Regions from separate parts of the Homo sapiens genome. Here all the other regions are linked to region 7. Evidence: fine-mapped expression QTL. A gene starts in region 7. Each other region holds a variant in brackets. All regions are shown on one strand. Distances are from middle to middle.

The links. PIP is the estimated chance that this variant, and not a neighbour inherited with it, causes the effect.
Region 1: its variant is the best candidate, but not a certain one, in a credible set for the expression of NCOA4 in whole blood (INTERVAL, PIP 0.73).
Region 2: its variant is the best candidate, but not a certain one, in a credible set for the expression of NCOA4 in blood mononuclear cells (TOPMed, PIP 0.84).
Region 3: its variant is the best candidate, but not a certain one, in a credible set for the expression of NCOA4 in T cells (TOPMed, PIP 0.58).
Region 4: its variant is the best candidate, but not a certain one, in a credible set for the expression of NCOA4 in whole blood (INTERVAL, PIP 0.72).
Region 5: its variant is the best candidate, but not a certain one, in a credible set for the expression of NCOA4 in whole blood (INTERVAL, PIP 0.65).
Region 6: its variant is the best candidate, but not a certain one, in a credible set for the expression of NCOA4 in whole blood (INTERVAL, PIP 0.55).

What each region holds. Positions count from the first base shown.
Region 1 is chr10:45,859,387-45,863,454 of GRCh38, reverse strand. It overlaps the pseudogene PARGP1-AGAP4 and the pseudogene PARGP1. Among named protein-coding and RNA genes, the nearest start is that of AGAP4, 14 kb to the right of the region's middle. The variant G/A (reference allele first, on the strand shown) is at 1,726.
Region 2 is chr10:46,083,430-46,087,497 of GRCh38, reverse strand. No RefSeq gene overlaps it. Among named protein-coding and RNA genes, the nearest start is that of MSMB, 39 kb to the right of the region's middle. The variant A/G (reference allele first, on the strand shown) is at 2,158.
Region 3 is chr10:45,936,905-45,940,972 of GRCh38, reverse strand. It overlaps the pseudogene PARGP1-AGAP4, the pseudogene PARGP1 and the pseudogene RPL35AP23. Among named protein-coding and RNA genes, the nearest start is that of TIMM23, 34 kb to the left of the region's middle. The variant T/C (reference allele first, on the strand shown) is at 1,722.
Region 4 is chr10:45,664,184-45,668,251 of GRCh38, reverse strand. All of the region lies in intron 1 of ZFAND4 (zinc finger AN1-type containing 4), which reads left to right. Among named protein-coding and RNA genes, the nearest start is that of ZFAND4, 6.6 kb to the left of the region's middle. The variant G/A (reference allele first, on the strand shown) is at 1,695.
Region 5 is chr10:45,256,767-45,260,834 of GRCh38, reverse strand. It overlaps the pseudogene OR6D1P. Among named protein-coding and RNA genes, the nearest start is that of OR13A1, 57 kb to the left of the region's middle. The variant GAGGGAC/C (reference allele first, on the strand shown) is at 1,558.
Region 6 is chr10:45,569,690-45,573,757 of GRCh38, reverse strand. It overlaps a transcript of MARCHF8 not described here. Among named protein-coding and RNA genes, the nearest start is that of MARCHF8, 36 kb to the right of the region's middle. The variant GAGAA/A (reference allele first, on the strand shown) is at 1,640.
Region 7 is chr10:46,028,909-46,032,976 of GRCh38, reverse strand. It overlaps NCOA4 (nuclear receptor coactivator 4), which reads left to right and starts at 2,354. Exons shown (of 10, transcript NM_001145263.2): 1 at 2,354-2,451. It overlaps LOC105378287 (a long non-coding RNA gene), which reads right to left and starts at 2,202. Exons shown (of 3, transcript XR_945923.4): 1 at 2,110-2,202; 2 at 193-388. RefSeq lists an enhancer at 2,309-2,378 and a silencer at 2,739-2,828.

The sequences.
Region 1 (4,068 bases), 170 kb after region 7:
AAGTATATTTAAATCAAAGCAAGAAATCCCATTTCCAAATGGCAATAAAGCATGTGTTACATAGAATCAGTGCATGAAAGTGTTTTAGTAGCCCAGATTAGATTGTACCCTGGCGAATAAGCAAGAGTTCTTTTTCATTTTCATCTTGCAATTCAACTGGGTATTTGGGTTCTTTTTCTATTCACTCATGTCAGATAGAGACATGCATGTTGTAAATTATTTTGTCAGAATGAAAGCCTGGCAGATTAAATGCTTTCTTCTCTTCTTGCTTTACTTGATATCAATCTCTTGTTCATTTCTTGATAATATGTTTGGTTATTTTTGTTTTCATTGCTTTTAGTGTCAGAGATGGCTTTGGATTCCCCATTCTGTGTGCTGCTGTCTGGCTCCTGAACCCACCTGTAGAGGTGTGTCAATCCCAGCTGGTGAAGTACTGAGAAGAAGCTACACAAAAGGCATCAAAGTATTAGTAAGTGTACCTCTGACATTTTAACCACCTCTGACTTTTCCATGGAATGGACAAGTAGTAGTCTCTGTCAGAGCTACATTTTAAAGGAGAAAAAGAAACGTGAAGTCATGAACTGTTTATTTATGCTGTTATTTTTGTGTTTACTCACCTCATTTATATTGACTTGTAAATTAGTAATTTCTGAACTATTACTTATCAATTCATTGCCTACATGTCAGCAAACAAATTTTCTTCTTAATAAAGAATACAGTTGCTGGGCACAATGGTTCACACCTGTAATCTCAGCACGTTTGGAGGGCAAGGCAGGAGGATTCCTTGGGGCCAGGAGTTCAAGACCAGCCTGGGCAATATAGCAAGATTTCATCTCTACAAAAAAATGAAAACATTGGCTGGGCATAGTGGCTCATTCCTATAGTTCAGGCTACTGAGGAGCCTGATGTAGGAGGATCACGTGACCCCAGTAGTTTGAGGCTGCAGTGAGCTATGATCCTAACACTGCTCTCCAGCCTGGGTGACACACCAAGTTGCCATCTCTTCAAAAAAGGAATCTAGAGACATCAGTGTGTGCACAAGCATGGTTTGTGAATTTGGAAGTGTGTATGTGCGTAGTTTTGCTCAAGAATGTGTTGATGATTATACCTTCTCAGAATGAAGGTAATTTTTTTTCTTTTCTTTTTTTTTTGAGATGGAGTCTTGCTCTGTTGCCAGGCTGGAGTGCAGTGGTGCTCTCAGCTCACTGCAACCTCTGCCTCCCGGGTTCAAGCAGTTCTCCTGCCTCAGCCTCCCAAGTAGCTGGGACTACAGGCACACACCACCACTCCCGGCTAATTTTTTGTGTTTTAGTAGAGACGGGGTTTTACCATGTTGGCCAGGATGGTCTCGATCCCCCGACCTTGTGATCCACCCACCTTGGCCTCCCAAAGTGTTGGGATTACAGGTGTGAGCCACCGTGCCTGGCCTGAAGGTCATTTTTATAAAGATCTCTCCACGTCTTAGATTTGATTCTTCCTTTAAATATTTTTCTCATTGACATTTGAAAGCACCTGACCTTATATAAAATGAACAATTTTCATAACTCCATAAAAGGAGAATTATGGCATCATCTATTTCTTTCTCTTGTCTCATAAATCTAAACCATCAACCTGCTTATTTTTGTATACTGTCACACTGTGTATTCCCTGCATTGAATGCCTGTCTGTTGACATTGTCTGTAAAAATTGTGGGAAGTTTTCTGCACCCTGAAATTTCTGTTATGC[G/A]GATTAAATATCCACTATCCATGTTTTTCCAAGTCTTACAGTAGAAAGGGTAAATGCAGCCCTCACAGCAGCCTGTTGTTCGTCCTGCAAATGTGTTTCCATCACATTACACAAAGCCTCTTTGTCTTCGTGGTTCTACCCTACTAATAAGTTTTTAAAAAAATTATGTAATGTGTGTATATACAAATACCTATATGTATGTGTGTACACATACAGCTGATATCTGCTGAGATTATGTATGCATGAACTATAGAATTAACTTGTAATTTTAAGAAAATAAATTATTTTGTAAAGATAAATCTCATGTTTAAGAAGAGGAATTACAGTTGAATCATTTAGGGATGCCTCAGCCTAAACATAATATGGAAAAAGCCATAACCAAAAGTCATTTTAGAGTACTGCTAGGTTACTCAACCTATCATCACATTTAATTAAAATGTCAGTTTGAACCATGGCCAGTCTATGTTGGTTAATATGTTATTTAAATCAACTTGTGAAGTCTTCATTTTAAATATAGAATTTGTGTTAATGGACTGGAAAATAACATTCTATTGCTTGGAAGATGTGTTAAAGTCTAAAGATTTATGACTTTGTAAAAGAAGAAAACCAGGTGATGATCAGTTGGCATTAGTATATGAGGATGTACTCATATTTGGTAATAGCCATTTTTTTCTAACTAGAGTAAGGGAGTTGGGAATGGGAGGCAGAAGCAAGGACACAGACATGTAAAAAATCATAGAACAAAACTGTATTGAGTTCTGAGTATGGGTCTGTGATCCATGGTTCAGTTTGAGAGGTTCATGTGTCCCTTATGAGAAGGGACAGGAAAGCCAGGAGGAAAGGAGTATGTTTGGGCCTGTGCCTCTGCTTCCGCCACAAAAGTCAGCAGCTCTACCTTTCTCTTTTCTCCTCTTTATCTAATAATTGTCTCCTCTTCAAATTTGGGAAATGAGCTTAATCAAAGATTTGTTGTGTTTTGTTTGTTTGTTTGTTTTTGAAATGTGGCCTCAGTGTGTTTGCCCAGGCTGATCTTAAACTCCTGGGCTCACATGATCCTCCCTCTCAGCCTCCTGAGTAGCTGGGACTACAGGCATGATCCACTACACCCAGCTAAGTTAATGCTAATGTGTAGTTTATCTGCTTCAATTTTGAAGGGTAGGATATATATAGTTATGTGTGTGTGTGTGTGTGTGTGTGTGTGTGTGTGTGTGTGTGTGTGGTGGGGGGGTAGTGTTTGTGTGTGTGTGTGTATATATATATTTATATATTACTAGTCCATTGCTGCTACAACAAACTACCACTATGTCAGGGCATAAAACAAATTTATTACACTCCTGTATGTCAGAGTATGATGTGGATCTCACTGGGCTAAAATCTAGGTGGTGGAAAGGCTACCTTCATCTCTAGAGGCTCTAGGGGATCTTTTTTCTCGCCTTTTCCACATTCTGGAGTCTGCCTGCATTTTTTGGCTTTGGGCTCTTCTCCACTCTCACCATTAGCAACCTTGCATCCCATGGACCCTTCTTCTGTGGCCACATGTCTCTGTGGCTCTTTCCTTCCCCCTTCTCTTCCACTGTTAAGGACTCATGTGCTTACTTAGTCCTGAATGGACACACCGTCATCATCCACATGAGCCCACTGTCCTAATCCATACAGGCTGCTACAAGGAAATGCATTAGACCAGGTAGCTTATAAATAACAGAACTTCGTTTCTCACAGTCCTGGAGGCTGAGAAATGCAAGATCAAGGTGCCGGCAGTCTTGGTGTCTGGTGAAGGCCTGCTTTCTCATAGAGGCTTCCTTCTTGCTGTGTCTTCGCATGGTGAGAGGAACAAACAAGCTCCCTTGTGCCTGTAATAAGGTGCTAATCCCAGTCATGAGGGCAGAGTCTCCCGTAAGGCTTAACCTCCTAATACCATCACCTTGAGGGTTAGGATTTTAACACATGAACATTGACGGAACACAACGTTCATTCCATAGCACCAGGGTAGTCTCCTCATGTCAAGGTCTTTACCTGAATCACATGCATGATGTACCGTTTTCATGTAAGGTTCTAGGAATCTGTGGACATCTTTGGGGGGCCATTATTTTGCCAATCACATATTACATATATTTTAATATCCTAGACTAGTATGAAAACAATGCCACTTCCATTGCTTTATATATGTATATATATATACACATTGTCTAATGCTATAATTAAAAAAAAGTTGTAGACACAAATATACCCATTTAAAAAAAAACCCATTTTTTTCTATTTTACTTCATACTGCCAACTCCTTTTTCCTGAAACTGCTTCAACTCTGGAATTCTTTTTTGCTATTAGTTTTATTTTATTGAAGTA
Region 2 (4,068 bases), 55 kb before region 7:
CAGGCATGGTGGTGCGCGCCTGTAATCCCAGCTACTCAGGAGGCTGAGGCAGGAGAATCACTTGAACCTAGGAGGCGGGGATTGTAGTGAGCCGAGATTGCACCACTGCACTCCAGCCTGGGTGACAGAGCGAGACTCTGTCTCAAAAAAAAAAGAAACTTTTTACAAAGCTACAGTAATCAAAATCATGTGGTGCTAGCCATATAGACCAATGGAATAGAAGAGAAGGCCTAGAAACGAACCCTTCGATATATAGTCAAATGACAAGGGTGTTAAAATCGTTCAATGGGAAAAGAACAGTCTTTTCAACAAATGATGCTGTGGAAACTAAATATCCATATGCAGAAGAATGAAGTTGGACCCTCACTTTACACCAGATACAGAAATTAACTCAGAATGAATCAAATACCTAAATTAAGTCCTAACACTGTAATGCTCTTAGAGGAAAACATAGGGGAAAAGGTTCATGACATTGGATTTGGCAATTATTTCTTCAATATGACACCGAAAGGATAGGCAACAAAAGAGAAAACAGTTACATTGGGCTTCCTCAAAACTGAAAAATTTTGTGCCTCAAAGGACACTATCAACAGAGTGAAAAGGCATCCCACAGAATGAGAGAGAATATTTACAAATCGTGTATTTGATAAGGCATTAATAACCAAAATATATAAAGAACTCCTACAACTAAATTATATAAAAGAAACAACCCAATTAAAAAATGGACAGAGGCCGGGCACAGTGGTTCACGCCTGTAATCCCAGCACTTTTGGAGGCCAAGGCAGGCCATTCACGAGGTCAGGAGATCAAGACCATCTGGCTAACAAGGTGAAACCCCATCTCTACTAAAAATACAAAAATTAGCCGGGCATGGTGGTGGGCGCCTGTAGTCCCAGCTACTCGGGAGGCTGAGGCAGGAGAATGGCATGAACCCGGGAGGCAGAGCTTGCAGTGAGCCGAGATTGCACCACTGCACTCCAGCCTGGGCAACAGAGCGAGACTCCATGTCAAAAAAAAAAAAAAAAAAAGGGCAGAAGGCTGGGTGTGGTGGCTCATACCTGTAACCCCAGCACTTTGGGAGGCCGAGGTGGGCAGATCTCTTGAGGTCGGGAGATTAAGACCAGCCTGACCAACATGGTGAAACTCCGTTTCTACAAAAAATACAAAAAATAGCTGAGTGTGGTGGTGCATTCCTGAAATCCCAGCTACTTGGGAGGCTGAGGCAAGAAAACTACTTGAATCTGGGAGGTGGAGGTTGCAGTGATCCAAGATAATGCCACTGCACTCCAGCCTGGGCAACATAGCAAGACTCCATCTCAAAAAAAAAAAAAAAAAGGCAGAAGACTGGAATAGACATTTCTCCAAAGAAGATACACAGATGGACAATATGCACATGAAAAGATGCTCCATATCACTAATCATTAAGGAAATGCAAATCAAAACCATGTTGAGATACCACTTCACACCCATTAGGATGACTATTATCAAAAATCAAAAATAACTAAACAGAAAGTAACTAGTGTTGATAAGGATGTAGAGAAATTAGAACCCTTGTGCACTATTGGTGAAATGTTAAATGGCACACCGATGTGGAAGACAGTATGGTAGCTCCTCGAAACATTAAACATAGAATTACCATATGATCCCACAATTCTGCTTCTAGGTATCTACCAAAAATAATTGAAAGAAGGGGTCCAGGTGTGGTGGCTCATGCCTGTAATCCCAGCACTTTGGGAGGCCAAGGCGGGTGGATCACCTGAGGTCAAGGAGTTCGAGACCAGCCTGGACAATGTGGTGAAACCCTATCTCTACTAAAAATACAAAATTTTTAGTATGGCATGGTGGTGGGCGCCTGTAATCCCAGCTACTTGGGAGGCTGAGACAGGAGAATTGCTCGAACCTGGAGGGCAGAGGTTGCAGTGAGCCAGATAACGCCACTGCACTCCAGCCTGGACAACAGAGAGAGATTCCATTTCAAAAAAAAAAAAAGCCATAGGAGCTTAGGAGTTTGAGACCAGCTTGGGCAACATAGCAAGACCCCATTTCAACTTTTTAAAACAAAAAAATAAAATTTTAAAAAAATTCTATATCTCCTTCAACTCTTATGACCATTTTGGTTAGGCTGGTCTCGAACTGCTGACCTCAGGTGATCCACCC[A/G]CCTCGGCTTCCCAAAGTGCTGGGATTACAGGCATGAGCCACCGCCCCTGGCCTAAAATGATAAATTTTATGTTATATATATTTGACCAAAATAAAACATTAAAAAAGAAATGTGTGTATGTGTTTTAAACTTTTTCAGCTATTTTAGCAAGGTAGGTTTACATGAAGAGTATGCTATTTGGAAATATTTATTCGTCCATTCATTACTCATTTCACAGTAGGGGAAACATTCCTGTTTCTCCCCCGTGGTGGTGATAAGTGGAAATAGCTTCTTTGAACGTGTGCAGGGTTTCACTGACCTTGGCCCACCCCTGTGACGTGGGGCCTCAGTCAGCGAAGTACCAACTCTCCGGGAGTCTATGGACTCAGCCTGCAGAGCCTGGAGGAGCCACTTCTGGTGGACATGGGGTGCAGAAGGAAACATCAGACTCATCCACCCTGCCCGTCACCTGCAGGTTTTCTAAAGTGTGGAGGAGTGTGAAGCTACAGCAAGGCTGGCCCTTGTAGAGCAGTTTTCATTGTGTGCTCTCTGCATCCCAAAGCCAGACTGGTGCAAGATGCGCGTTATTTATACATGTACTCCCTGGAATTACTCTGAGTCATCACAGGAAAACTCCAAATCCTCACAAAATCCCTTTCAGTTAACTGTACTTCCATGACCTGCTTTTGCCTTTTGCATTAAGGTTTTCATCCATGTGTGCTGGATAGTCTTGGACTGTTTTTTTAGATCCATTCTACTCCTCCCCACCCTGCTCTGTGCCCTGGGAGGACGACTTCTACAGACCACATCACTTAGGTCACCTCTCCCCCTGGCCTCGAGCTGGGTTAGGCTGATGGAGGTAGCAGCAGCTGTTGATGTAGGAGGAGAGAGAGCCTGCGGCCTGGATTTCCCTGGCTCCTTCCCCAACAGGCCATGGTTTTAGCAATAATGGTATGCCTTTACCAAAGCTTTTGTCAGGGGCCCTCCCTCTCCCCTGGCCACAGTTCTCTCCCCAGATTCTGATGATGGGTCCCATCCCTACTGCTCAGGTGAGAATGGCTCCCTGTTACTGCAAGCCTCTGGGAACATCGCCATCCCATAAACATCTACAACTTTGAAAACGGTCCTGGTTCTACATGTTACAGCTCTGCAATCTTTTTTCTAGCAGGACTCTGACTGATACACGAAGAGAAAAAAAAAAAGAGGGCATACCAGTATGGGAAAAGGAAATCACATCTCTTAAATGCCAGATTAGAGTTTTACGTATGTTATTGCATGTAATCCTTGTGACAACCTTGTGATGAAGATTTTATCATCTCTGCTCCCCTGAGAGGGAAACTGAACTTCAAAGAGAGTAAACAATTTCTCCAGATCCTTCAAATAGTGACTAGTGAAGTTGGGATTTAAACCCAGGTCTTCCTGAAAACAAAACCCATGTTCTTTCCCCTATAAGAGCTGAAGGAGATATATATTTTTTTAAAAAATTTATTCTTTTATTTTAAAAAGTTGACATGAGGTCTTGCTATGGTTGCCCAGGCTGGTCTAAAACTCCTAGGCTCAAGCAATCCTCCCGTCTTGGCTTCCCAAATTGCTAAGATTAAGGTGTGAGCCACCATGCCCAGCCAAGCTATGGAAAATTTACTTCTGTCTAGCTGGAAAATTGTTACGCATTACATCAATCAGTATCACGCATTATCAATCAGTATCTGAAAAGTAAAGTTCCACATGCGAAATTTACCTTCGAAATTTTAGATTTTATTTATTTATTTATTTTGAGACGGAGTTTCGCTCTTGTCACCCAGGCTGGAGTGCAATGGCGTGATCTCGGCTCACTGTATCCTCTGCCTCCCAGTTTCAAGCGATTCTTGTGCCTCAGTCTCCCAAATAGCTGGGATTATAGGTGCCCACCACCATGCCCATCTAATTTTTGT
Region 3 (4,068 bases), 92 kb after region 7:
GTTGATCATGTTATTACATCTGTCTTTTTCTTCAGAACTGTTTCTGTCATTTAAATTTTTTTTTTACTTTTTTTTCCAAGAGCACAAATCCACTTTTATTTATTTACTTTTCATTAATTTAAATGCTTGAGGGGTACAGCATCACACAGATTCTGTGTCCAGTGGCCTTAGCAGGAAGATTGCTTCAGAATTTGGCGTGAACCATGCCACTATTTCCCTGGGACCGAGTTACCTTTCCCTAGATTACTCTGATTTTGTTTGGTTTGCCACCAGGAGTCACTTTGTTGTTCTTTGTTTTGTATATATAAGCACATCTTATGCCCGAATAGAATTCTGTTTCATTTTGGGCATAAGCACCTTCTATTTTAAAAAGAGCTGTGTGCTGTCTTTGGTTCTGGAGACCCCACTTATACTCAGCAAAAATGGCCTTGGACCACAGCCTTCCAGACATACTTCCTTTTAGTATTCCTGTTCCCAGCAGGCCTCCACAGGCTCCAAGTTGGCAGAAAGAGAAAGGCCATTTAAAATTTTAAAAACAGGTACAACATAATTCATTGTCTCCAAAATTGAGGCATGTATTATTATAGCTGTGTTTAGCTAAAATAACAGTTTTTGAACTTGTGATTATGGAAAACTTTAAAAATGATAATGTATTGACAGAGCATCAGTAGAAACTCAGAAAAAAGAACATAAACTTGTATTAAAATAGATTACAAAAAGTTATTTCACATACACAAAGTAATGGCTGGAAGAAATTAAGTTTTGATTTATGCCTTTATTATATAATAAAAAGTTAAAATATATGTTGAAATTATTAGGCAAAAATCACAGCACAAATCAGCTATGATTCAATAACGTAAAACACAATAGTTGTATGTTTATGCATCACTTGAGCATCAATGCATTCAAGCATATGTGGTATACTGTGGACATCCTGGCTTTCTGAGGTGTGGCATGCTATTATGAGTAGCTTATCTCATGGTAATTTTAACTGTATCAAATATACTCAGTATTTTTGTGTATTAAAAATTTTAGAACAAAAATATTGTTAGAGGATTTTTCTTTCTTCTCTCTTCATTCCTCCTATCCCCACCCCTTTATCCCCAGACTGTCTATAAACATTTCATGTAGGGTTAGTGCTTTTTAGAATAGTTTGGGAAAAGCTGACCTAAGGCGGTAAATTGTTATAACTACCTTTTTAAATCACAACAGATTTCGTTATTCAGTAACTGAAGGAATGTGGCCTCCTTCCATGATAGCCTTTTGGTGGTCATTTTTTGTTTTGTTTTGGTTTGGTTTTTTGATAACACTGAAGTAAGTTTCTGAATGTATATAAACACATTATTACTTAGCTTGATTTAACATTCTTCGTAGATAATCTGTTTTCTGGGATTTTCTTCAAAGCTTAAAAAATATCAAGTGTCTTTGTTATATTTGTCACAAAGAGCCTGTACCAAACTCCTAATCAAATGAAAGCAGCCTTGAATGTTTCATAAGACTAAAGCTAATGTCTTTATCTCTCTAGCTTTCGAACCTCTGATTTGGAGTTCAGTGGAAATTTAACCTTTTTGGACCTCTTCCCTTGGTGACTCACAGTCTCTGGAATCATAAGGTCTGCATTACTTTACAGCTCAATTTAATTCATGAGAACTATAGGAGCCAAAAGGGAGCTAATCAGAATCACTAAAATATTGAAACAGATCAATTGTGACTTTTAGATT[T/C]GTATGGAATATGTGGAATTTCTCTCCCTGGTTTGGTTAATGAGTGCTTTTGAATGGGGACATATGTTGAGGGTCTCATATTTATGATTTATGATTTCTAAATAGTGCATATCCCAAAGGACAGATTACTCCAATTGGAACTAGGCACTTTGCTTTTATAAACTTGATGAGTTACCATGGAATATCAGTCTTAGTTGAGCCCTCTATGCACTAGATCACTGATGAAGTTGGAGTTGTTATTTTGTGTTTGCAAAACACTATCTGGATTGTATTTATTTATGTGGTGGACAAAGAGGTTAGAAGTTATAGATACTCAAAAGTGAAAATTCATTCAGTAGACTTTCTCTTATATTCTAATAATGAAATTAAGCTAGTACTTAGTTTGTCCTATAACTCTAACCCTTCATTTGTGTCAAATAGCAGTAGAAGTTATTCTTTTTAAATGTTGCTGTGGTGTTGATTTCATTATCCAAAAATCTACTGTTAGAGGAGTGAAAATAATTCTGTGTTTTAATCTTGCCCATGATTTATATCTCTATCAGCTAGCTCTGAAGTGTTTTGGGTTTTGTTTTGTTTTGTTTGTATTTTATTAACACAGTTAAACATGATGCCTTGATTTATAATTCCTGTTAATTTGCATTTATTCTTCTTATGTTCCTACTCATAAAAATAAATTCTGTAGTCCTTTTGAGTATGCTTTGAACACTTATCTACATGTAACATTGCATATTTAACCCTGGAAGGACTATTGTAGTATTTTTATCTGAAGGTAAAAATAATGAGTAAATAAAAACAGAACGTTAGATCTGTTTTTCAAATTTATATATTGTTTCAGTGTGTAGCCTATCTAAACAAGCGGTAAACTTGCTCATCAAAGACTAAATAGGTCCATTGGTCCTTTTATATGAGGGGGTGCTGTTAGTGCTGTGGTTTACCAAAGACTAAGCCAATGGTGTTTCTCCTTATTTTACTATTAGTACTAGTAGAGAAAAATACTCATCCTCGATTTATTGTGATGATAATGACAGGTAATGATTTACTACAAGAGTCTGTCAGATTCTAAGCAGGCTAAATAATTTTTCTTTATAGTGTGTTAACAAAGTTTTTAGTACGCTGAGTGACATAGTGCCTTGTCACCACAAATGCTCTTTGATTACATGAAAAGTGTTACAAAAAGACATTTTCTGCAGCAAGGGCCATTTCCAGCATAATGAAATATGGAATATTTTCAAATGAACTCCAAAGTGATATGTATTGAGGTCTTGCTCTTGGTCTAATCTGCCTCAGTCCTGAGAAGCCTAGCTCTAAGATAAACAAAGGGCATCTTCCACTGGGAGTGCAATGTTGGAACTGCTCACTGCCTTAAGTAACCATATGCATAGCCTCTTTCCTGATAGTTGGCTCCTGTCTCCCTTTGTAATCCTTTCCTTCTTCCATGCCTGCTGCTTAAGTTGCAGACTATTCCAGCCTCACTTCTCTTGGACACTTCTATCTGTTGCAGGCATAGGCCTGTCTCATCCCAGACTCACCTCTTCTACAAGATCCTCCCTGTACATATCTTCTTTGTGTTTGCTGGATCATCTTATTTGGTTATCTTTGGCGATGGAGGTGGTAGTGCTTATTACTGAGAGTTTTCTATGTACCAACTATAGTGTCAGCAGTATGCTTTATCTGATTTAATTCTAACAACCACCTCATGAGTTAGATGCTATTAATATTTCTGTTTTACAAATGAAGAATGGAAAACCAAGGTTTAGGGAGTTTAAGTAACTGACATCTCATTTTTATCTATGGACTGTGGCACATGCTGTCAGAGTCGGTCTTTGACATAGCACCTAGGAAAGAAGCTGAATCAGATTAAACATACTACCCAAACATTAGGTCAATTGAAAATGGCTAGGGAAAAGGGAAGATTCATCATAAAAACTAATTGAGTAAAACTAGGGAGGCCCAATAAGTTCAAATATTTGAATTCAAGGTAGAAAGAAGAAGAAAACCCTCTAGCAAAAGTCGGCCTTAATGGCCCATAGCCTTAGATCTGGCATCATTTAGAACCACATGGCTGGGCATGTGGCTCACGCCTGTAATCCCAATACTTTGGGAGGCTGAGGCGGACAGATCACTTGAGGTCAGGAGTTTGAGACCAGCCTGACCAACATGGTGAAACCCTGTTTCTACTGGGAAAAAAAAAAAAAAAAAAGCAGCAGCATCACAGCCTCAGGGAAAGTACCTACCAGCTTCCAACAGTCTTCGTTCCTTTGAATCCTTTGCCATCTGGTTATATTCCCTCTTCCCATTCTTGTTATCTGCCCATCTTTGACACCTCTTTTCCTCTCTCCTGTTACTT
Region 4 (4,068 bases), 360 kb after region 7:
CCAAATCCTGACAGACATAATGAAAACTACAGATCATCATCTCTTGTGATTATAGACACAGAAATCCTGAGGAAATATTTTCAGATCAAATCCATCAACATATGTAAAGGATTACATACCAGGTACAAATGGGATTTACCCCAGTAATGCAAGATTGATTTGACACATAAAAAGTAATGTAATATGTGAATAAAAAAGTAAAGAAAACCAAATGATTATTTCAATAGACAATGAAAAAAGCGTTTGATAAAATTGGCACCCCTTCATGATTAAAAAGAAAACCCACCTAAAGCAGGAATAGAAGGGAAGCTCGTCAACCTTATATTGGTAATCTATGAAAACCCCACGGTTAACATTATACCTAAAGACTCAATGGTTTCCTTCTACAATCAAGAATTAGACAAGGATGTCCAGTCTCACCACTTTTATTCAATCTTGTACTGAAGGTTCCAGAGCAGGGCAATTAGGCAAGAAAGGGAAATAAGCCCAGTGCAGTGGCTCAGGCCTGTAATCCCAGCTCTTTGGGAGGCCAGGGTGGGTGGGTCACCTGAGGTCAGCAGTTCGAGACCAGCCTGGCCAACTTGGTAAAACCTTGTCTCTACTAAAAATACAAAAATTTGCCTGGTGTGGTGGCAGGTGCCTGTAATCCCAGCTATTTGGGAAGCTGAGACAGGCGAATCGCTTGAACTCGGGAGGCGGAGGTTACAATAAGCGGAGATCGTGCCATTTCACTTCAGCCCGGGCAACAGAGTGGGACTTTCACCCCCTCCAAAAAAAAAAAAAAAAAAAAAAAGAAAGAAAAGAGCATATAGATTAGAAAGGGAGAAGTAAAACTCTATTTGTAAATGACATGATCTTGTATATAGAGCTTTTATAGAGAGCGTTTAGGAAGATTTAAATAACTAAATGAACGAAATAAACAGTTCAGCACAGTTGCAGTGTACAGGATCAAGATATTAAAATCGGTTGTGTTTCTATAAACCAGCAATGAGCAATCTGTAAATAAGACAGTGATTCCATTTGTAATAGCATTTAAAGGAATAAAATACTTAGGAATAAATTTAATAAAAGAGAACAAAACTTGTGCTTTAAAAATTATAAAACATTGAAATAAATTAGATATAAACTGAAAAATAGTATGTATTTATGGATTAGAAGACTTAGTATTAAGATTGCAGTACTCTCCAAATCTACAGACTTAATACAATCCCTGTCAAAATCCCAGCTGACATTTTTGCAAAATGGGCATACTTAAAATTCATATGGCAATTCAAGGAGTCCAGAATAGCCAACAATCTAAAAAGAACAAATTGGAGGCCTCACACTTCCTGATTTCAGAACTTACTACAAAGCTACATTAATTAAGATGTGGTGGTACTGGCATAGGTAGATCAACAGAATAAAGAGTCTGGAAATAAACCTTCACATTTACAGTAAATTGGTTTTTAACAAGGATCCAAGACAATTCAATTGGGAATGAATGGTAATTCTGACAAATGATACTGGAACAACTGGTTATCCACATGCAAAAGAATAAAGTTAGACTCTACCTCACACCATACACAAAACTAAATTGAAATTGGACAGTACACCTAAACATAAGAGCTAAAACTACAATTTTTAGAAACATATATAAGTCAATCTTTATTACCTTGGGTTAAGCCAAGCTTTTTAAGTATGATAAAAGAAAAATA[G/A]CCAAATTAGAGTTTAACAAAATTAAAAACCTTTGTGTTTCAAAAGATACTATCAAAAGACAACCCACAAAATGAGAGAAAATATTTACCATTCATATATCTGTTAAGTGTTTTTATCTAGAATATGTAATATAAAAACTCATACAACTCAATAAAAAATCCAATTAAAAAATAGACAAAGTATATGAATAGGCATTTCTCCAAAGAATGTATGCAAATGGCCAATAATCACATAAAAAAGATGCACAATATCATTAGTTTTTAAAGAAATGGAAGTCAACCACAGTGAGATACTACTTCACACCCACTAGGATAGCTTTAATCAAAAGGACAGAAACAAGTATTGTCAAGGGTGTGGAGAAATTGGCACCCTCATTCATTGTTGATGGGACTATAAAATGATCCATACCATTTAGAAAACAGTTTGGTAGTTCCACAAATTGCCAAACATAAGAGTTACCACATTATCTAGCAAAGCTACTTCAAAGAGAAAGGAAAACATATGTTTACACAAAAACTTGCAGTTGAATGTTCATCTTAGCACTATATGTAACAGCCCAAAATTGGAAACGACTCAAATGCTCATCAACTGATGGATGGATAAACAACATGAGATATATTGCTACAGGGGACTATTATTCAGCAATAAAAAGGAGTGAAATACTGATATATCCTAGAACATGATGAACTTTGAAAACATTATGCTAAGTGAAAGAAGCCAGTCACAAAAAAATCATATATGATTCTATTTATGTGAAATGTCCAGAATAGACCAATTTGGAGATAGAAAGTAGATTAGTGGTTGCCTAGGGTTGAGTGGGGGACTGGGGGAATTTGGGAGTGTTGGTTACAGGGTATGGGGTTCCTTTTAGAGGTAATGAAAATTTTCTAAAGCAAATGTGGTGATTGTTGCACAACTCTGTGTACATCATAAAAACCAGTGAATTTTAGGCTTTAAATGAGTGAATTTTATGGCATGTGAATTATATTTCAATAAAGCTTTTTTTTTCTTATTTAATGATGGAGTCTTGCTCTGTCACCCAGGTTGGAGTGCAGTGGTGCAATCTTGGCTCACTGCAACCTCTGCCTCCTGGACTCAAGCGGTTCTCCTGCCTCAGCCTCCCGAGTAGCTGGGACTACAGGTGTGCGCCACCATTCCTGGCTAATTTTTGTATTTTTTGGTAGAGATGGGGTTTCGCCATTTTGGCCAGGCTGGTCTCGAACTCCTGACCTCAGGTGATCCGCCCACCTCGGCCTCCCAACGTGCTGGGATTACAGGTGTGAGCCACTGTGCCTGGCCCTCAATAAAGCTATTTTTAAAAAGGTTTAACCACCTCACCAGAAAGATGTGTATCATTTGTCCTAGTTTAAGTTCAAGGCCCCCCTGTATAGAGTTTTCACGATTAATAGCAATAGCAATTTGATCATTTTTGTGCTCCTAGTTCTATACTTGTCATTTAGTTTACTACTTCTATTTGTTGGGCTTACCACTCATACTTATTAGCCATTGTATGTATGTGAGCAGAGATTGTCTAATACTTATTACCAATTCTAATGTCATCTGAATGCTATAATATCCTCTGGAAACCGTTGATGATTTAGTGAGTACTACTTTTTTTTGTTTTTGAGACCAGAGTCTTGCTCTGTTGCCCAGGCTGGGGTGTTGTGGCGCAATCTCGGCTCACCGCAAGCTCTGCCTCCCGGGTTCACGCCATTCTCCTGCCTCAGCCTCCCAAGTAGCTGGGACTACAGGCAGACACCGCCACGCCCAGCTCATTTTTTTCTTGTATTTTTAGTAGAGATTGGGTCTCACCATGTTAGCCAGGATGGTCTCGATCTCCTGACCTCATCATGATCTGCCATCTCGGCCTCCCAAAGTGCTGGGATTACAGGCATGAGCCACAGCCCCCAGCCTAGTGAGTACTATTTTTAAGCAACCTATTATGGTGGTTGGCATTCCTTTTATCCAGTATGATTCAAATATACAACAGGAGTAGGCATGGTGGCTCACGCCTGTAATCCCAGCACTTTGGGAGGCCGAGGCGGGTGGATCACAAGGTGAAGAGATCGAGACCATCCTGGCCAACGTGGTGAAACCCCGTCTCTACTAAAAATACAAAAATCTGCTGGGCATGGTGGTGGGTGCCTGTAATCCCAGCTTCTTGGGAGGCTGAGGCAGGAGAATTGCTTGAACCCGGGAGGCGGAGGTTGCAGTGAGCCGAGATTGTGCCACTGCACTCCAGCCTGGCGACAGAGCGAGACTCTGTCAAAAAAAAAAAAAAAGTCAAATGTACAATCGTTGTAAAGTTATGCTTTATATGGTATAGAAGACATAATTTGTATGTTTTAGAAAAGGATATGAATAAATTTTTCA
Region 5 (4,068 bases), 770 kb after region 7:
TGAGATTAGGGAGTGGTGATGACTGTTAACGAGCATGCTGCCTTCAAGCATCTGTTTAACAAAGCACATCTTGCGCCGCCCTTAATCCATTTAACCCTGAGTGGACACAGCACATGTTTCAGAGAGCACAGGGCTGGGGATAAGGTCATAGATCAACAGGATCCCAAGGCAGAAGAATTTTTCTTAGTACAGAACAAAATGAAAAGTCTCCCATGTCTACTTCTTTCTACACAGACACAGCAACCATCTGATTTCTCAATCTTTCCCCCACCTTTCCCCCTTTTCTATTCCACAAAACCGCCATTGTCATCATGGCCCGTTCTCAATGAGCTGTTGGGTACACCTCCCAGACGGGGTGGTGGCCGGGCAGAGGGGCTCCTCACTTCCCAGTAGGGGCGGCCGGGCAGAGGCGCCCCTCACCTCCCGGACGGGGCGGCTGGCCGGGCAGGGGGCTGACTCCCCACCTCCCTCCCGGACGGGGCGTCTCGCCTGGTGGGGGGCTGACCCCCCGACCTCCCTCACGGATGGGGCGGCTGGCTGGGCCGGGGGCTGACCCCCCCACCTCCCTCCCGGACAGGGTGGCTGGCCGGGCAGAGGGGCTCCTCACTTCCCAGTAGGGGCGGCCGGGCAGAGGCGCCCCTCACCTCCCGGACAGGGTGGCTGGCCGGGTGGGGGGCTGACCCCCCACCTCCCTCCCGGACGGGGCGGCTGGCCTGGCGGGGGCTGACCCCCACCTCCCTTCCGGACGGGGTGGCAGCCGGGCGGAGGGGCTCCTCACTTCTCAGATGGGGCGGTTGCCAGGCGGAGGGTCTCCTCACTTCTCAGACTGGGCGGCTGGGCAGAGACGCTCCTCACCTCCCAGACGGGGTCTCGGCCGGGCCGAGGCGCTCCTCTCATCCCAGACAGGGCGGCGGGGCAGAGGTGCTCCCCACATCTCAGACGATGGGCGGCCAGGCAGAGACGCTCCTCACTTCCTAGATGGGATGGTGGCCGGGAAGAGGCGCTCCTCACTTCCTAGGTGGGATGGCGGCCGGGCAGAGAGGCTCCTCACTTTCCAGACTGGGCAGCCAGGCAGAGGGGCTCCTCACATCCCAGACGGGGTAGCGGCCGGGCAGAGGCTGCAATCTCGGCACTTTGGGGGGCCAAGGCAGGCGGCTGGGAGGTGGAGGTTGTAGCCGAGATCACGCCACTGCACTCCAGCCTGGGCACCATTGAGCCCTGAGTTAACGAGACTCCGTCTGCAATCCCAGCACCTCGGGAGGCCGAGGCTGGTGGATCACTCGCGGTTAGGAGCTGGAGACCAGCCCGGCCAACACAGCGAAACCCCGTCTCCACCAAAAAAATACGAAAACCTGTCAGGCGTGGCGGCGCGCGCCTGCAATCGCAGGCACTCGGCAGGCTGAGGCAGGAGAATCAGGCAGGGAGGTTGCAGTGAGCCGAGACGGCAGCAGCACAGTCCAGCTTCCGCTCGGCATGAGAGGGAGACCGTGGAAAGAGAGGGAGAGGGAGACCGTGGAAAGAGAGGGAGAGGGAGAGGGAGAGGGAGAGGGAGAGGGA[GAGGGAC/C]AATTAGCCCTTATTCTAAGAAAAAACAAACAGAACCTAAAAAAAACATATTTGCAAATTTTTTATAAAGGATTCCAGAAACAGGAGAAAGATTGGATTAGATCAAGGAGAAGGTGCATTCCTTCACTGGGAGGTTGTGATTCTGTTTTTACAATTTCATTCTGGACTGAGCATCCCTCAGAGCCTGGTGGACCTGCTTGTTCCGCAGAGTGTAAATGATCGGGTTCAGCAGTGGGGTCACCACTGTGTTCACAAGAGCAGCCTTTCTGTTGGAGTCCAGCCTGTCCATTTGCTTCGGCTTCACATATATGAAGACACAGCTGCCATACACCAGAGAGAGGACAATGAGGTGAGAGGAGCAGGTGGAGAAAGCTTTCTGCCGCTCCTTGGCTGATGGGAGTCGTACAATTGTGACTACTATGTTGCCATATGCAATGATGGTTATAATGAGGGATGTAAAAAGAACGAATGAAACAAGGACAAAGGCCAACGTTTCAGTAGATCTGGTGTCAGAACAGGAGAGTTGGATCAGAGGGCCGAGGTCACGGAAGAAGTGAGGGATGACATGGGGTCCACAGAAAGATAACTGGGAAACCTTCACCATGAGACCAGTGATGAGAGTGAAGCCCACGACAAAGCAGGCAGTGACCAGGTGGAAGCTAGTCCTCAGGCTCATGATGGTGGAGTAATGCAGAGGCTTGCAAATGGCCAGGTATCAATCCAAGGACATCACAGCCATAAGGAAGAAAACTGTTGACCCAAGAAATAAAAATGAAAAGGACTGCATGAGACAAGTAGTAAAGGGGATTATTTGCCTGCCTGAAAGAAAGATGACCAGAAGTTTAGGAATAACTGTGGTGATAAAACAGCATTCACAGAAGGAAAAACTGCTGAGGAAGAAATACATAGGTGTCTGGAGGTGATGGTCAGCCCAGGTGATGGTGATTATGAGCATGTTTGCCATGATGGAGGCCAGGTATGCCAGCAGGTGCACCAGGAAAAGGACATTCCCCAGATGCTGGACAGCAGGAAATCCCTCCAGGATAAATTCCTGGACTACTGTCCTGTTCCTTGCTTCTCCCATCATTGGTTTTCCATTTCTTCAATCAATTTTCAGTGAGCTATTTTACAGTGTCATGATTAAAGAATGGAGAACTTTATTTTATTAAACATGTAAAACAGTATCCGTGTGGCAATTGGACTTGTTTATTTTCAAACATTATATTTTATGTAATTTTTGTTATGTAAACATTATGATTTTTATCTATGAATATACTTATATTACATGCAGCCCAAAATAACTGTGCATGTAGCTATTAGTCTTCATAAAGGATAATGTAATTTTAAAAGTATTAGTCATTTTCCTATACAGTTTATTGCCAAGCAGGAAAAAAATCCCTTCTTTTACTTACGTATCTGATCATGTAACACATTGCTGAGAAGATACCACTCATGACATGCAGTCACAAGATGAATATTGCAAAAATAAATGTGTAACTTAAAAAAAACTTGAGGTCATTTAAGTCTGTCATCCCACAAAAAGTATTTCTTCATCATGTCTTAGGGTTTGTTTCCATCTTGGGGGAATCATAATACCATATATAGGAAAAATACTGTGGCCCCAACTGCAGCCCTCCGAAGTGAGTTAGACTAAAAGAGTCACAGACAAACTCCATCTGGGCCATTCTGACCTTTGCTGAATTTGTTTTTCCCTTCATGCCATGCTAAGTGGTCAGTCCAGGGAGGAATATATTCTGACCCTTCCAGTTCACTAGTTACACTTTCATCTAGAACAAAGCCACCTAGAAACCAATGTCCCTCTAGGATCCCTGGTGGCTGCTAATTGGGCCTGTTGGAAATACAAATTTATTACACAAGCATCATAGTTACACTTTAATTATGTGTGCAAATATATTTAAGGAATGACAACCAAAATATAAAAAGAAGGGTTATGGCTGGGCACGGTGGCTCATGCCTGTAATCCCAGCACTTTGGGAGGCCAAGCAGGCAGATCACGAGGTCAGAAGTTCAAGACCAGCCTGACCAACATGGTGAAACCCCGTCTCTACTAGAAACACAAAAATTAGCTGGGCATGGTGGCACATGCCTGTAATCCCAGCTACTCAGCAGGCTGAGGCAGGAGAATCACTTGAACCCAGGAGGTGGAAGTTGCAGTGAGGTGAGACTGTGCCACTGTACTCCAGCCTGAGCAACTGAGCAACAGAGTGAGACTCCGTCTCAAAAAAAAAAAAAAAAAAAAAAAAAAGAAGGGTTGTATGACTTGACCACAGCAATTATTTTCTGATTCCTGCTCCTTGCTGTTGTCCACCTAAGTAGAATAAATATTATTTTTCATGTGTTTAACATTGGACTGTCTCTTGACACCAGTCAGGATCCACCAGGACCAACGGGCAGACTCCAGACACGCCAGACATCATTAGGAGATGAACAAAGCCATCTAGAGACCAATGTCCCTCTAGGATCCCTGGTGGCTGCTAATTGGGC
Region 6 (4,068 bases), 460 kb after region 7:
GACTTACCCTCCACTTTAAGAGTTACCTAAAGCATCTGTGATGGTCCAGGAGGCTTCTGTGGTGATCGGGCAGCATCAGTCTTTAGCCACGAAGCTGAGAAGATCTGGGAAGGAGTCAGTCAGAGAGCCTTGGGCCGGAGTTCCAGGGGCTCTGGGAGTGGCTGCTGGGCGAGTTGGATTTCCAGTGGGGTCCCGCACAGATGGGACAAGGCTTAGGAGGAATCCCGGGCTTCAGGCATTCCTTCGCCCAGTGGCCAGATTTCCGGCACCTGAAGCAAGTTCCTGGGGGAGGAGGTTCTGGAGGAACCCCTGGCAGCTGCAGTTCAGGTGTTTGGAGTTCTTGTGTGCTGGAGATGTGGCTGGGGTTTTTCTCACAGTGGAGGCAAGGAATTGCAACTCAGAAATACATTGCTACTTGGCTGCCTCTACTTTATTATTGTACACCTTGAAGGAGAGGTTAATTAAGTCCTGTTGTGGGGTTTGAGGGCCGGAATTTAATTTTAGGAGTTTTATTTAATGTCAGGAGCTGACTGGGTGTTAAAATGCATAATTAGAATGAGATGGCCTTCTGACCCTTCAGGGTCTAGGGCTGTAAAGAGTCTTAAGGGTTGCTGCTAAATGGGCCATGAACTGGGCTGGGTTTTTCATATTTGATGAAAAAGAGCCTAAACGCTAACTGATTTGGGAGAGGTCCGATAAAGAAAAAGGAGCATTAACCTTTACTATGCCTTTAGCTCCAGCCACCTTTTTAAGAGGAAATTGCTGGGCAGGTGGGGGAGGGCCAGTCGCAGAACGAAACTGTAAGCTGGACCAGGTGTGAGGAGGGGGAGGTGATAAAAGGATTGTAGGGTGGCGGGGCGGAGGCTGAGGAAAAAATGGAAAGACTTGGGACTGTCTTCCCAAGTCCATGACCAGCGCTGGAGTTTTGGGTCCACGGATAAAACACGTTTCCTATGTCTCTACCAGAAAAGCAGCCTGGGGAGGAGGGGAGAGGTCAGATGGGTCAGTAGAAAAGGAAGATTCAAAAGACTCAGAGACGCTTGGGGTTGGGACTGAAGGGACAGGCGGGAGGGAAAGAAGGAAGATTTGGGACGAGTTGCATTGGGGAACAGAGACTAGGGATGGACCGATGTGTAAAAGAATGCCTGGACGTCAGGCACCTCAGACCGTTTGCCTATTTTACAACAAGAATTATTTAGGTCTTATAGGATGGAGAAATCGAAAATGCCGTTTTCTGGCCATTTAGAGCCGTTATCGAGTTTGTATTGGGGTTAAGTGGCATTGCAGAAGAAAATATTGCAGAAGAAAATAAGGCATTTAGGTTTTAGGTCAGGTGTGAGTTGAAGAGGTTTTAAGTTCTTGAGAACACAGGCTAAGGGAGAAGAAGGAGGAATGGAGGGTGGAAGGTTGCCTATAGTGAAGGAGGCAAGTCCAGAGAAAAGAGAGGGTAGAGACATGGAGAAAAGGGGTGGGGGTGCTTGCCCCCCAGGAAAGTGGAGAGAAAAGAGAGGGTAGAGACACAGAGAAGGGGTGAGGGGGTGCTTGCCCCCCAGGAAAGTGGAGAAGGGGTGGGGACACAGAGAGAAGGGGTAAGGGGTGCTTGCCCCCCAGGAAAGTGGAGAAGGGGTGGGGACACAGA[GAGAA/A]GGGGTAAGGGGTGCTTGCCCCCCAGGAAAGTGGAGAAGGGGTGGGTGAGCAGCCAAAGCAGGTGTCCCTGCAATTGACTTGCCACCAAGGGAATGTGGGTGAATGACAAAGGCAGGCGTCCCCGCGGTGATAAGACACCAATGAAATGTGGGTGAATAATCAGGTAGGTGTCCCCGCGTGATTAAACACCAAGGGAAGACTGTCTTCCTGAGTCTATGACTGGTGCTGGAGTTTTGGGTCCACGGATAAAACATGTCTCCTTTGTCTCTACCAGAAAAGGAAAGGAACTGAAATTAAGAGAAGGGAGAGATTGAAGTGTGGCGCGAAGATTGAAAGGAGAAAGAGATTGAGGGATAGTGAGAGAGGTTGGAGAAGAGAGTAAAAAGAGGCCGCTTACCCAATTTAAAATTGGTGAGATGTTGCTTGGGCTGGTTGGTCAGAGGACCAGAGGTCGTAGGTGGACCTTTCTCACAGAGCAAAGAGCAGGAGGACAGGGGATTGATCTCCCAAGGGAGGTCCGCCGATCCGAGTCACGGCACCAAATTTCACTCACGTCTGTGAAGAGACCACCAAACAGGCTTTGTGTGAGCAATAAAGCTTTTTAATCACCTGGGTGCAGGTGGGCTGAGTCCAAAAAGAGAGTCAGCAAAGGGAGAAAGGGTGGGGCCATTTTATAGGATTTGGGTGGGTAAAGGAAAATTACAGTTAAAGGGGGTTGTTCTTTGGTGGGCAGGGGTCGGGGTCACAAGGTGCTCAGTGGGGGAGCTTTTGAGCCAGGATGAGCCAGGAGAAGGAATTTCACAAGGTAATGTCATCAGTTAAGGCAGAAACAGGCTATTTTCACTTCTTTTGTGATTCTTTAGTTACTTCAGGCCATCTTGATGTATAGGTGCAGGTCACAGGGGATATGATAGTTTAGCTTGGGCTCAGAGGCCTGACATTAACTCCTTCAACTTTGTTCTTTTTTAAGATTGTTTTGGCCGTTCTAGGTCTTTTGAATTTTCATATACTTTCATATTTCATATACTTTTATATTTCATAGGCTTTTAGAATCAAAAGCCTAATTTCTATAAAAGTGCCTGGTGGGAATATGGTTGGAATTGTGATTTGGGCAGAATCAACATCTTGACAGTGTTGAAATTTTCGAATTACAAACATGGTATATATCTTCATTTACTTAGGTATTTCTTTCAGCAGTGTTTTGTGGTTTTCAGTATATGGGGCTTCCATATCTTTTGTTAAGTTTATTCTTAAGTAATCTGCTTTTTGGTATTGAGAAACGTTTTTAAAATTTCATTTTGTTGGTGGAATATAGAAATACAATTGTTTATTGACCTGCCATCCTGCAACTTTGCCAAACTTACTTAAATGAATCTTGTTAGATTGACATAATTCTTAAAAATTTGTTTGTTAACAATTATATTGCCTCTGAAAAGAAAGTTTTATAACTTCGTTTCAAATATTTATGCGTAGTATTTCTTTTCCTTGCCTATTACATTGGCTAGGATCTTCTATATAATATAATGTTGAGTAGACTTGCTGCGATTTCTATCACTATCTTTGCCATGTTGCCAATCTTTGAGGGAAAGTCCTCAGAATTTCATTATTTGCTGAAGGTTTATATGATAGAGGAAGTTTCTTTCTGTTTGTAGGTGTGCTAAAATTTTTATTTTTTTTAACCCGGAATGGATATGGAACTTCGTCAAATGCTTTCATTGCATCTGGTATTATAGTAAATGAAATTGCCTTTTATATGTGAATCCAAATTTTATATTCCTGGGATAAATACTGCAGTATCATGATATATTATTCTTTTTGTAAGTTACTGATTTTGATCTTTCCATTGTTTTGCTGAGGATGTTTTCATCTGTGTTAATCACCTATGGTCATGTTTTATAGTTTTTTTATAAATGAAAAATATTTTGGTAATGGGTTTATGCAAACCTTCTAAAATGAATTGGGAATTGTTTACTCCTTTATTTTCTTCCACATGTGTCTGATAGACTTCACCAGTGAAACCATCTGAGTTTTGAGTCTTCTTTTTGTAAAAGGGTAGGCTGAGTATTTTAACTTAATAAATACATGGCTGTTTAGATTTTAAAAGTTTTATCTTGTGTCAGTTGTGGAAAGTGTTGTGCTTTTCACTCTATTATTAGTGCTGTGTGGTTTATCTTTCCATCCTCTTTATTTTAACCCGTGTCTTTATATTCAAAAGGTATCTCTTGTAGACATAATTGGGTCTTGTTTTTTTCTTCTCCCCAATCTGAAAAAAAGCTACATTTTAATTGGAATATTTAGTCTCCTTGATACACAATTGATCCTCATTATTTGAGGATTCCATACATGTGAAAATTGCAAATTTTATTTGTAACCCCTAAATCAATACTTGAAGTGTTCCCGTGGTCATTCATAGACATGTACAGA
Region 7 (4,068 bases):
ATCACATCAGTGCACTCCAGCCTGGGTGACAGAGTGAGACTCCGTCTCAAAAAACAAGCAAACAAACAAACAAACCCAAACCCAAACAAAACAAAACAAAACAAAATACATATGAATAAAAGTTCTATTTTTCCTAAACTCTATAATAGGTCATTGTGCATCCCTTACTCAGGGGACCACTGCCACTCTTACTGTTTCTGATGTCTGCACTCTGCTGCCCGTGTCCTGCTGTCTGGTGAACGATGAAAAAAATGTGTGTCTTCAAGCTGGAATTAGATCCCTTCTTTTCTTTACGGTGTTCCTGTTTATCCCTCCTTCCTCTTCATCAGGAAGTGTCTTCTATGATGTGTCCCCCACATTCCTCTGTGTTTGCTTGAGGTCAAAGCAGCTTAGAACAAGAAACAGCTTAGAACAAGCCTGTAAAACAGCTTAGAACAAGCCTGAAGAAAGTGCCCCCAAGACCACATGCAGCCCGAGGGGAATTAAAGGCCAGGGGCTCTGCCTTGCAGATGGAGAGTGGCCTGGGTGCAAGGCCCCAGCATCAGCTACCTCTTGCTACACACAGACCACCGAAAACTTAGTGGCTTAAGACAACGACAACATTGATTCTCTTTTAACTGTTTCTGTGTTAAAGAACATCTGTTCACTCAACAGGTCTGTACTGAGCACCTGGGCCAGGCAGTGCTCTAGACCTGGGGATACAGCAGTGAACCAGAGAGATTTCAGGAGAGAACCCTGTTCTCCTGGGGCTTGGACTCAGCTGTGTGTACGTGACAGATCAGAAATGAGCAAACAGTCATCTGTTGAACAATCAGTGGGCAACTGATAAAGAGCTTTATTTTCCCCTGTCCCCTATCTGTTTAAACATGCTATGTGGGCCAGTTGAGCAATCTAGACAGGTCCCTTAGCTTTCTTGTTCACCTTCAGATAATTTAAAAAAGTGGTCTGAGTTACATTTTGAGTTACACAAAGTCTCATTCCAGGGGCTGCATCTGAATTGAGAGGGAATGGGGGACAGGAGAGTTAAGGGCTCCTTCTGCCTGAGGTCATGTTCTAGGCTGACTTCCTCATGGGACTTTTGTGGGCTTCTCTCTCCACAGCTCCCCTTCCACTCACAGCCTATGACTGTTATCTTAGCTTCTGCATCGTAATCTATGTCTCCTATTGTTTTCTAATGAGGTTGCCTTGCCCCTTGTAGCAGAGTCACTCTTGGATGAGATCCATAAAACCCTGCTATGATCACCTCCTTTGCTGCGGAATGTGGGGAAGCAGTTGGCAACTGAGTATGGAGGACCTCTGTCAAAACTGAGACAGAAAGAAGTGCTATTTAACATCTAGTCACAAGTAAATAATGTGGGTTATAATCTGGGCTGTAGGCTGGACGTGGTGGCTCATGCTTGTAATCCTAGATCAGGTGGGAGGATCGCTTGTGCCCAGGACTTTGAGACCAGTCTGGGTAACACAGCAAGACCCTGTCTCTACAAAAAAATTTAAAAACCGGGCATCATGGCGCATGTCTGTAATCCCAGCTACTCAGCAGGTTGAGGCAGGAGAATCGCTTGAACACAGGAGGCAGAGGTTACAGCAAGCCGAGATTGCGCCACTGCGCCTGAGCGACAGAGTCAGACCCTGTCTCAAAGAAAAAAGAAAAGAAAAAAAGAATCTGGGTTCTGCCATTTATTTATTTACTCAATTTTTTTTTTTTTTTTTTTTGAGACGGAGTCTTGCTCTGTCGCCCGGGCTGGAGTGCAGTGGAGCGATCTCGGCTCACTGCAACCTCTGCCTCCCAGGTTCAGGCAGTTCTGCCTCAGCCTCCCGAATAGCTGAGGCTATACGCGCGAGCCACCACGCCTGGCTAATTTTTTTGTATTTTTAGTAGAGAAGGAGTTTCACCGTGTTAGCCAGGATGCTCTCCATCTTCCGACCTCGTGATTCGCCCGCCTCGGCCCCCAACGTGCTGGGATTACAGGCGTGAGCCACTGCTCCCGGCCTATTAACTCAATCCTTAGAAAAACAAATGTGGCAAAGGTGGAATCATACAACATATGGCCTTTTGTGTCTTACGATATTCATTTTTGCATCTGAATGTTCAAACTAAATAATATCTACCTTGTGAGGCCATCTGAATCACTTAGGATGGTCCTTGGCACCAAATTTGCCTTCAAAAAAGCATTTGCTTCATTTAATTTCGATTTATTCACGAAGGACTAAAGGACACTGCAAGGGCGGGGAGGGAGTGTGCGCCTGCGCTCTGCGCCTCCTAGAGGGCAGTCAAGGGCTTCTGGCTGACCCGAGCGGAGATCTCGCGAGACTGTCAGACGTATGGCGAGAGGTGTGGGAGGAAGATTGTGTTGTCGCGAGAACTCTGCCTTTGGGCCGTAGGTTAGTGTGGGGCCGTGTCTCAGTCCACCCAAGGTCTCCTCGGATCGCCTGGAGAGGCACTCGGACCTGGTAAGAACGCTGTGGGCCGGGTGGAGGCTCGATGACCGCTGGCCCGCTGGGCCCGGGCTTGTCCGCCCCTTCCCGACCCGACCGACACCGGGACCGGTCTGCCTTCTCCTTCCCTTCCCTCCCCTCCACACGCCAGGCCCGGGCACCTCTTCCTGCCTGCCCGCCGGGCCCGGGCCTGTCTTCTCCCCTTCCGGCCACACGCCGGGCCCGGGCCTACGTTCTCGCCTTCCCGCCACACGCCGGGCCCGGGCTTGTCTTTTCCTCCCCGACCCTCCTCGTGCCCGGCCGTGGGCCTGTCCTTTCCTCCCCGACCCTCCTCACACCCGGCTCGGACACCTCCTGCTCCCCGCCGGCCTTCCCCTCTCTTTAGGTGTGACAGCTCCAAGTTTCCTGTTTCTCTCGCCTCTTGCTTGGATGTGGGGCGAGGCGAGGTCTGTTTTGCCGGACGGGCACAGAACATAATCCATTTCTAGCTTGTCAGGTGGAAATGCAAAGAAGATATTGGGTTTTTTTGGCCCTCTGTGTGCCAAACACATACTGTCACATTTAATTCTCCCAATAATCCCGAAAAGTAGCTTGATTATCTCTGTTTTACAGCTGAGAAGAGTAAGGCTTGCTCATTCATTGGTTCATTCCACCAGCAATCATTTATTTGGTGCCTGTATGTTCAGGATGTTGAGGATAGCAATGAAAAAAATGGACACCTAATTCTCATGGAACTAAATTCTTGTTGTGGGGAAAACAATAATCATAATCTTACGTGGCACGGGATTTAACATGGAATGATGCCATCAAGAATGGCAGAAGTAGAATGACAGAAGTCAGAGTGCTGAATTTATCTGACCCCAAAGGCAGAGCTTTTTTACTTTTAACTGTGCCTTTTTGTGTCACTTTCTAATCAGGGTCGGGTTCACCACAGTAATTGCCTTTTGGATGGACTTAGCTTTCCACCACGCACTTGGTAATTTGGAACTAAGTTTATAGAGACTCTTGAGTTACTTATTGGAATGAGGATGGCACAGGAAGTCATAGTTGGCCCATTTTTATACCGAGATCCTAGTGTGACATTTCCAAACTTTAAAGTACTTGAGACCGTTTGAGAAAGACTTACCCTAAGGATGCAGTGGCTTAGGCAATTTACTTGGTTTTCTCATTTGAAGATTTGCTAGCTTGCAGATTTGTTCAGATAAGTAAATGAGATTATGTATGTAAAGTCCAGCACAATAACGTTCCTTTCATTTTCTCCTTTCCTGCCTTCCAGGGAGCCTTTGTCCTTGGGTCTCTAAGGAAAATCCTACTCTTTGAAAGTTTTGTGGTAGTTTTTATCTAAATAAATCTCTACAATTACATTATTACCTTTGTGCAAACAGGCATTTCGGAAATGGAAAAACATGTTGAGCTATGGAAGGGGAGGAAGATGTCCTTCTCAAAGGGAGAGAAGATATTTTAGAACTACATAGTACCCCTCACCCCCCCCTTTTTTTTTTTTTTATTAAATCAGTATAGCTGTGCCAGAATCTCAGGATCCGGTGTAGGGGTTTCATAAAACTCCATAGGATATCCTGACACATATCCCTCCCCCGGTTGAGAGTCCCTAAGTTAGTGTTTTATAATACT